2 linked regions of the Homo sapiens genome follow. The protein of the gene in region 1 purifies or fractionates together with the protein of each later gene. This does not show direct contact. Each region holds a gene or a part of one and is shown on either strand. Other genes may lie near its edges.

Region 1 (4,426 bases):
ACAGAAAGACAAACTTCACACATCCTCACTTATTTGTGGGAGCCTAAATGGAAACAATTGAACTCATGGAGACAGAGAGTAGAGGGATGGTTACCAGAGGCCAGGAAGGGTAGTGGGGGGACTTGCAGGGGAGGAGTGGGGATGGTTAATGGGTACAAAAAATAGTTAGAATAAGACCTAGTATTTCATAGCACAACAGGGTGACTATAGCCAATAATAATTTAAGTGTACATTTAAAATAACTAAAAGTATAATTGGATTGTTTGTAACACAAAGGATAAATGCTTGAGGCAATGGATACCCCATTTACCCTGATATGACTATTATGCATTGTATGCCTGTAGCAAAATATCTCATGTACCCCATAAATGTATACACCTACTATGTACCCACAAAAATTAAAAATTTTAAAATAAGTAAATAAAAAGTTTTTTAAAGGTCTTGAACTTTCGGGCTTCTGCCTAACTTTACTACTAGTGTAAGTGGGCCCCTTGAGATTTCAGCACCCCAGCATTTGTTAGTGACTGAAATAATGAAAATTCTGATCAGGCCCTTGCTTGCACATGTTGACAACTCTCTTTTTGCCCAATATCCCTTGTTCCTACAACATAATCATAAACTGCTGATGTACTGTTTCTTTATCAAGCAGGAGGAGATAATAACTTCAGGGTTACGAAAAAGTTTGCAGGAGGAATAAGTCCTTTGAAGTACTTTGAGGCCAGCTTCTGTCGCCCAGAAGTCTGATTGTTCAAGGAATTATCTGAGACTGAAGAAACACAGACTTTTTCCCTCGATTCCCTGAAACTCCCCCTCCCTGACTCGCTGGCCGCATAAACACTCTCTGCTTCTTCTTTTTGTTAGGGCGGATTTGAGAGATCTTGCCCTCCCGCCTTCTCGCTTTGGCCAAATCGAATAAACTTTTATCTCCAAGCACCTATATGTCAGTGTTTGGCATCAGCTACACATGGGGTACACGAGCCTGAGTCTGGGCTTCTACAACGCTGGGACCCTCGCTGTTCTTTGGAGCTGATGGTAAATTCAACAGAAAAGAGGCGCATGGGTAGAAAATGCAGCATTTCCTCTCAGATGCCAGATATTCATCTCCAAAGGTATTAAAAGGAGGGGGTGTGTGCCTGTGTAAAGAGGCTGGTCTTTTCCTAGCAGTACGATTTGGGCAAGTTGCTTGATTTCTTCAAGCCTTTCTTTTTCCGCCTGTCAAACAAAACAAAACAAATATCCCGTTTAGGACAAATTCACAATCCTTAAAGAGGGCAGGCAGAGCGATTGGAATGCAGATGAACCAATCCCTTCTCCTGCAGGTTGCGGAGCTGCAGAGGGACCCCGCCCCCTGCATTGTGCTTAGCTCTGATTGGCGCCTCGCGGAGGGGGCGGGGCCTGGGCGCGCCGAGCTCCGGCTGGGTCCCTGCAGGTCTTGGGGCCCGGGACTCTTCCTGGAGACACCGCCATGGCCGGGCTATCCCGCGGGTCCGCGCGCGCACTGCTCGCCGCCCTGCTGGCGTCGACGCTGTTGGCGCTGCTCGTGTCGCCCGCGCGGGGTCGCGGCGGCCGGGACCACGGGGACTGGGACGAGGCCTCCCGGCTGCCGCCGCTACCACCCCGCGAGGACGCGGCGCGCGTGGCCCGCTTCGTGACGCACGTCTCCGACTGGGGCGCTCTGGCCACCATCTCCACGCTGGAGGCGGTGCGCGGCCGGCCCTTCGCCGACGTCCTCTCGCTCAGCGACGGGCCCCCGGGCGCGGGCAGCGGCGTGCCCTATTTCTACCTGAGCCCGCTGCAGCTCTCCGTGAGCAACCTGCAGGTGAGCTGGGGCCCGCGGCTTCCCCAGGCGGGCTGTGGGCGGGGCGGCCACAGAGCGAGCCTTCACTCTCCCCAGAATTCTTCCCGGGAAGTGGAGCGTGGCTCGAACGGCTGTTGCTTCTCTGCCGCGCAGGCAGGTAGGTGGGCGTTGCAGCGTCCCAGATGTTGGGCAGCTGGGTACCAGGAATTTCCCACAAGCCTCCGCCACTGGGCCACGCACCTGGGGTAAATTCTCTGCCAGCAGCCCGAGGACTTCTCATCCGTGAGTGGTTCTCAGTCGTCTTGGGGCCCAGTGTCTCTATTAACTGTGCTCCTATTCTCTTTTTTTTTTTTTTTCCCTTTGAGACAGAATCTCACTTTGTGGCCCAGGCTGGAGTGCAGTGGCGCTATCTCAGCTTACTGCAACCTCTGCCTCCCAGGTTCAAGCGATTCTCGTGCCTCAGCCTACCGAGTAGCTGGGATTACAGGTGCGTGCCACCACACCCGGCTAATTTTTGTATTTTTAGTAGAGGCGGGGTTTCACCATGTTGGCCAGGCTGGTCTCAAACTCCTGACCTCACGTGATCCACCCATCTCAGCCTCCCAAAGTGCTGGGATTACAGGCGTGAACCACCGCGCCCTGCCTGGGCTCCTATTCTTAAAGGTTTTACAGGGCATAGAGATTGTTAGGTACTTAAGCACTTTAATATGTGACTTCAGGGTTTCTCACTCTCTTACCCTTCCTGAATTAAGCTTTTCCCTCCTGCAGCAAGACGCTAACGTACAATATCATGGACGATTACAATGATTACTGCAGTCTTTAGGCCTCCACAGGCATAGTGGCTCCTCAGTAAGATGCAGAGCTGATTGAAGGTGTATCTCTTCCTCGCCCTTTGCCCACCTTCTGGTGCAGGGCCACACTTACAACTCTGATGGATCTCTGCTGTCTCAGGGATGGGGTCACAGACACCCAGCTTGGGAGGCCGGAGACACACAGAGTCCAGGAATGGAGCCTGATTTGATGGAGGGTCTTTTTGACAAAGCTCTCACATTTGAGTTCAACTCTGAAAGTACAACATTGTTGATAAAGACAGGATGCAAGAAACTGATGCTTGATTAATCACTTTTCCATTTGCCTTCCATTCGTTGTCTCTTCTATTAATTCTTTGAAGTAGGTATTATATACCCCATTCTGCAGATGAAGAACTTGAGGCCTACCTAGGTTAAGTAACTTGTTTAAAGCCAGCGGGCAAACCCCTAGTTTCATCTCAGGTTCATCTTTCTTCAAACCACCTATCACAGGCTGGTGGCCCATCAGCTGAATATGTCCCACAGACCGGTTTGGCCTACACAAAGTTCTGTTTTGTTTTTAATAAATTTGAATTTGTTACCAACATTTTAAAATTTAGATTTTACTTTAAAATGTAAATCTCTAACTTTTCTTGAAAAATGGGAAGATCCAGTGACACTGTGGGCCTGCACTCTTTGAGCAAAAACAGAAGCAGTGCCCTCTTTTAGCTAAGGCAGATACACCCCAGTTCACCATTTTCTTATTCCCAGCCCATTCCACACCTTTAGGCGTTTGCTCAAAACAAACTCACTCCACTCCATCAGTGGTGCTCAACTTTGACTGCAAATCATAGTCACCTAAGAAGGCTTTAAAAATGGGATGCCAAGGTATTTTATTGAAAGCACATTTTATTTTAAGACAACACCCCTTCCCGCCTCCCCACAAACCACTCCCTGATGATTCTAATGGGGGAGGAGGGAGATTGACCAATACATAATCATATTTAAATTTGTGAGGTGACTAGGGAGTTGCTGGTATTATTGTCCCCATTTAGGAAGTGAGGAAACACAGACTCAGAGGTGCAGGGACTTACCCTGTGACCAGTCAGCTAATGGCTGTCAGGTAGGACATTAGCCCAGGTCTTTCATGTTTCTAGAAATAGACAGGGCAGTGGCAAGGAACCTACCCAGGGCTTTAGGTTTCCATGATGGCAGTGAAAAGAAGTGGCCACATTAGAATTTGTCTGACTTGATTCCATCAATTAGCAGGTCAAAGTTTCTGCTTTTTTCTTTTCCTCCTCCTGACCTCCAGGGTGCTCTGCATTTCTTCTCATTGACAGGGGGTGAAATCGTTCAGAAGGAACAAAAAGACCTAGGTTTGGGACCATTTCTCATGTGTAAAATACCTGTCCTCTGTAACTTAGAGATATGTTGTGAGCTTCAAACGTACTTACCACTGGGCTGTTTCTTTTGTATGTCTCTTTCTTTGTGGCATTTTTGTATAGTAAATGTCTGTAGGACAGTGTTGCTGATGTTAGCTTATAGTGGGACCGTGTTTGGCTGCAGAGCCAGTGAGTCTGAAGGGAAATCTTGGGGTTTGATTATTTGCACCAAGACCTCTTACTATTAGCCTCCCTTCCATTTTGGCATTCTTTTCTTGTGATGTGCCCCTTTCTGTTCTGGTCACTCTTGGTTTTTTTTCTCTGACCCACTAAAATAAGTATCCCTCAAAGTCAGTTTCCTACTCTTTTGTTCCCTGCAGCGATCCTCAGAAGATTGTATACACTCTCGTTGTATACATTCTCTTCTAGTCCTTACTAGGACTCACTTCCAGATGTGT
Region 2 (3,686 bases), on another chromosome or scaffold:
GATCAAAATTAATTTTCAATTTTTTATCTTTATTTGAAAAATGGCCACAATAGTTAATTGAATATTCTGGTTAGCCTATTATCTTAAGGTATGTAAAAATTATCAATATGCAAGTACAAAACATATTTGTTAAATATTACATAGAAGCTGTTTTTTCCCTCATATTTCAGAAGTTAAGGACCTGAAAAAGGTAATAGGTCTTAAATTTATTGGAAATACTAAAGCATTATATAAAATTATCTTATTTAATTCTAACATCAATCATTGAAGGCAGTGTTTTCATCCCCATATTACAGAAAGGTTAAGTCATTGGGTCAAGTTCATACAACTACTCATTGGCCGTGCTGAGATATGAAGCCCAGAATGTCAGATTCCAAAGCTCAGGCTCTTTGCTTCATACATACTTGTCTTCCAGTATCACTAAATTCCGTCAGTTATTAAATCAATAGAATTTAGGAAGGTCAGTGAATACAATGTGAGTGTTACAGAACTCAGTTGTGTTTCTGTATGTTGTAATGAATAGAAAATAATAGAAAATGAAATTTGAGTATTTATGCCATTTTTCAGTAGCATCAAAGAGCATCAAGTAGTAGTAATAAAATAGTGCAGAAACTATGTAGAAAATGCTGATTTGTACTGTAAGAGGTTTAAGTATCGGGTTATTTGTTTGCTCTTCCAAAGAGCTCTTTTTGGTAAATATTAAGCAATTTACTATTTTATATCAATTTGCTTTTATCGTAGTTGATGCTGATGTAACAGTTATAGGTTCTGGTCCTGGAGGATATGTTGCTGCTATTAAAGCTGCCCAGTTAGGCTTCAAGGTAAGGTTTGAACTCAAACTAAGTATTGATTTATTTTAATTTGGGAAGGGTTGATCATATTTATAAAGTACTTTGCAGGCAAAAACATGGTAAATACTTCCTTAACTCTATAAATTACTTGTAAGCCTGAGACTAATAAAGATTAGGTTCATTTGGTTGTAGTATTCTCTTGGAATGGAAAGTGAAATCTATTAGTTTTCTTCTCTTCCCAGTACTTTTCATTTTGGCATCTAATCACACTTTGGAAGATACAGTGATAGAACTAAAAGCATATATTTGGTAATGTTAAGCACACAAAAATATCTTTTAGAATAATTCACTTTTGGGTCAGCCCAAAAGTGTTTATTATTATTCAAATGATAAATTATAAAGGACTATATATTTTAGTCTGTGAAAACATAGCCCGAATAGCTTGTTTTGTAGAAGAATTAAGACATATATTTGGAATTTTAGTGATCTGAAACATTGAGGTTATGTGCAGTTAAATAATGTTTTCTTTGGTTGTAGACAGTCTGCATTGAGAAAAATGAAACACTTGGTGGAACATGCTTGAATGTTGGTTGTATTCCTTCTAAGGTGAGCATGTGTTTTGTACAGCACAGAGATTGTTTTTGGCTAGCAACCAACTAGAAGGATGGATTGAGACTAGATTAGACAAATACACTTGTTAAAAAACAATCCAAGTTGTGGCACATTTCACACAGAGAAAAAAAAGAATGATAAAAAACACACTTCTCTTTTGTAAAACTTAAAGAGTGCTGTCACTAGTCTGCCACACATTCCTGAAATAACTTCCTTGTCTCAGAATGCCTAGCTTTCCATTCAAACAGACTCTGATGTTCTAGTTTTTTCTCTTTATCTTTCCTTCACCAGTGTAACAGATAATAGATAGTAAATTGTTCTTTTAGGTCCTTTTTGTATGTAAACATGACTGCCTTTTTCACCTGCCACCCTGAAGTGTGTACTTATGCCTTTACTTTTAAAGAAAGTAAAAATGTCTTTTTCATTCTTGTTTGTTGAATGTTTTTCACATCATTATTGTTTGTCTTTGATTAATAAGAGAAACTGAATTGGTGTAGTGCCATATACTATTCCATGTAGAGAATGCCATGTCTTTTTTTTAACTTCTTTTTAAATTTTTATTGTAAATTGACAAATTACAATTGTATATATTTATGGCATACAAAGTGGTGTTATGATTTATGACTATAATGTGGAATAATTTAGTCAAGTTAATTAACATATTCATTACCACAGTACTTATCATTTTTGTGATGAGAACATTTGAAAGAGAATATCGGCCGGGCGCGGTGGCTCACGTCTGTAATCCCAGCACTTTGGGAGGCCGAGGCGGGTGGATCACCTGAGGCTGGGAGTTTGGGACCAGCCTGACCAACATGGAGAAACCCCATCTCTACTAAAAATACAAAATTAGCCAGGCGTGGTGATGCATGCCTGTAATCCCAGGGACAATTGCTTGAGCCCGGGAGGCGGAGGTTGCGGTGAGCTGAGATGGCGCCATTGCACTCCAGCTTGGGCAATAAGAACGAAACTCCGTCTCAAAAAATGAAAAGAAAGACTATCATTTCATAAGTGCTTTTTGATTATTTGAAGTCTGTTTATGAATATTTGATAATTTGATCTTTTTAATTTCCTTTAGGCTTTATTGAACAACTCTCATTATTACCATATGGCCCATGGAAAAGATTTTGCATCTAGAGGAATTGAAAGTAAGTATACTTTTCATGCTTAATGATATTACCAGACTGCTTGACTTGGCTCTTCTGTCTAAAGACTTAAATGTGTCTAACGTACGCATAATAGATGTTTAGTGAAGGAAGAGTAAAATAAATAATCTAAAAAATGTGGAGAGATTTACTTAAAAAAGAAGGCCTAAATCCAGATTTCTCCCAGCCAAGTATAACCAAGCCTAACCCTGCAAATCCAGATTTCTACCATTATATCTTCTGTTCCTTTGCCAACTTTTTCCTGAGGTTTGCCTTTATGTGTTTTTGAAGAGTCAGTTTTCATTTCCTAAAATCTGGAAATCACTGAGAAGGCTGGATTCCTGAGTACTATGGGGAGATAGAGGAAGGAAGGAAGGCCCACTTAAGCTGTTGATAGTAGAAAAATTAGAGGAGAGAAAGAGTGAGGCATAGCGGAAAAGGAAGAGGACATTTCATAACGTATCTTGTCTCCTGACATACTTTTTGAGCTGTTTTAATCTTTTGTCTCCAATTATTGTTGTTGTTAGATACTTCCAGAAAGGTAGTCTCTTCTGGGCAGGACCTAGTCATAACCTTGGGTTGTTACTTTTCCTTCATTTGTTTCTTTACAGAGGTAGGTTTGAGGGGCTACTTAAGGCAATCCATTGGGTATAGAGATGATGTATATGCACTAAAGCAAATAGAATATCATACTAGTTGAAAAATGGAATGACGTAAAGAAAGAAGAGCTAGGGGTAGTCAGGAGACCTGCATTGTAGGCAAGGCTTTTACATCCTAGCTCTGTGACCTTGGGTAAATCAGAAATCTCTCAGAGTCTCTTTTTCCTTATCTCTAATATATGTGTTGGTTATATGAGGTACTTTCTAAGATACCCTTCTTACCTCTAAAGTTTAATTGAGTTGAGCATTTTTATCTAATACTGTTGCTTCAGAGTTCTCTTCTGAGTTGAATGAGTGATTAAAACCTAGGTGATTAAACTTTTTAATGTTAAGCTTCTGTATTTGAAATTTTTAAACGTGTATTTTTTATTTGTTTTGTTTCATGAAATCTAGCATTTTCCTTTATTTAAAATTTCAGATGATGTTTTACTTTGTCATTTCTACTTACATATCTTCCAGACTTATAACCATCGTAAAGT

Evidence for each region. Proteins that work in one complex are often made in the same cells at the same time.
Region 2: the proteins of CREG1 (region 1) and DLD fractionate together in Homo sapiens (co-fractionation; one large-scale study listed by BioGRID). This does not show direct contact.

What each region holds. Positions count from the first base shown.
Region 1 is NC_000001.11:167,550,781-167,555,206, reverse strand, and holds the start of CREG1 (protein CREG1 precursor), read left to right. Parts: upstream 1-1,444; 5' UTR 1,445-1,465; coding exon 1,466-1,819; intron 1,820-4,426.
Region 2 is NC_000007.14:107,900,997-107,904,682, forward strand, and holds part of DLD (dihydrolipoyl dehydrogenase, mitochondrial isoform 1 precursor), read left to right. Parts: intron 1-741; coding exon 742-821; intron 822-1,328; coding exon 1,329-1,397; intron 1,398-2,481; coding exon 2,482-2,551; intron 2,552-3,686. UniProt on the Homo sapiens protein: Lipoamide dehydrogenase is a component of the glycine cleavage system as well as an E3 component of three alpha-ketoacid dehydrogenase complexes (pyruvate-, alpha-ketoglutarate-, and branched-chain amino acid-dehydrogenase complex).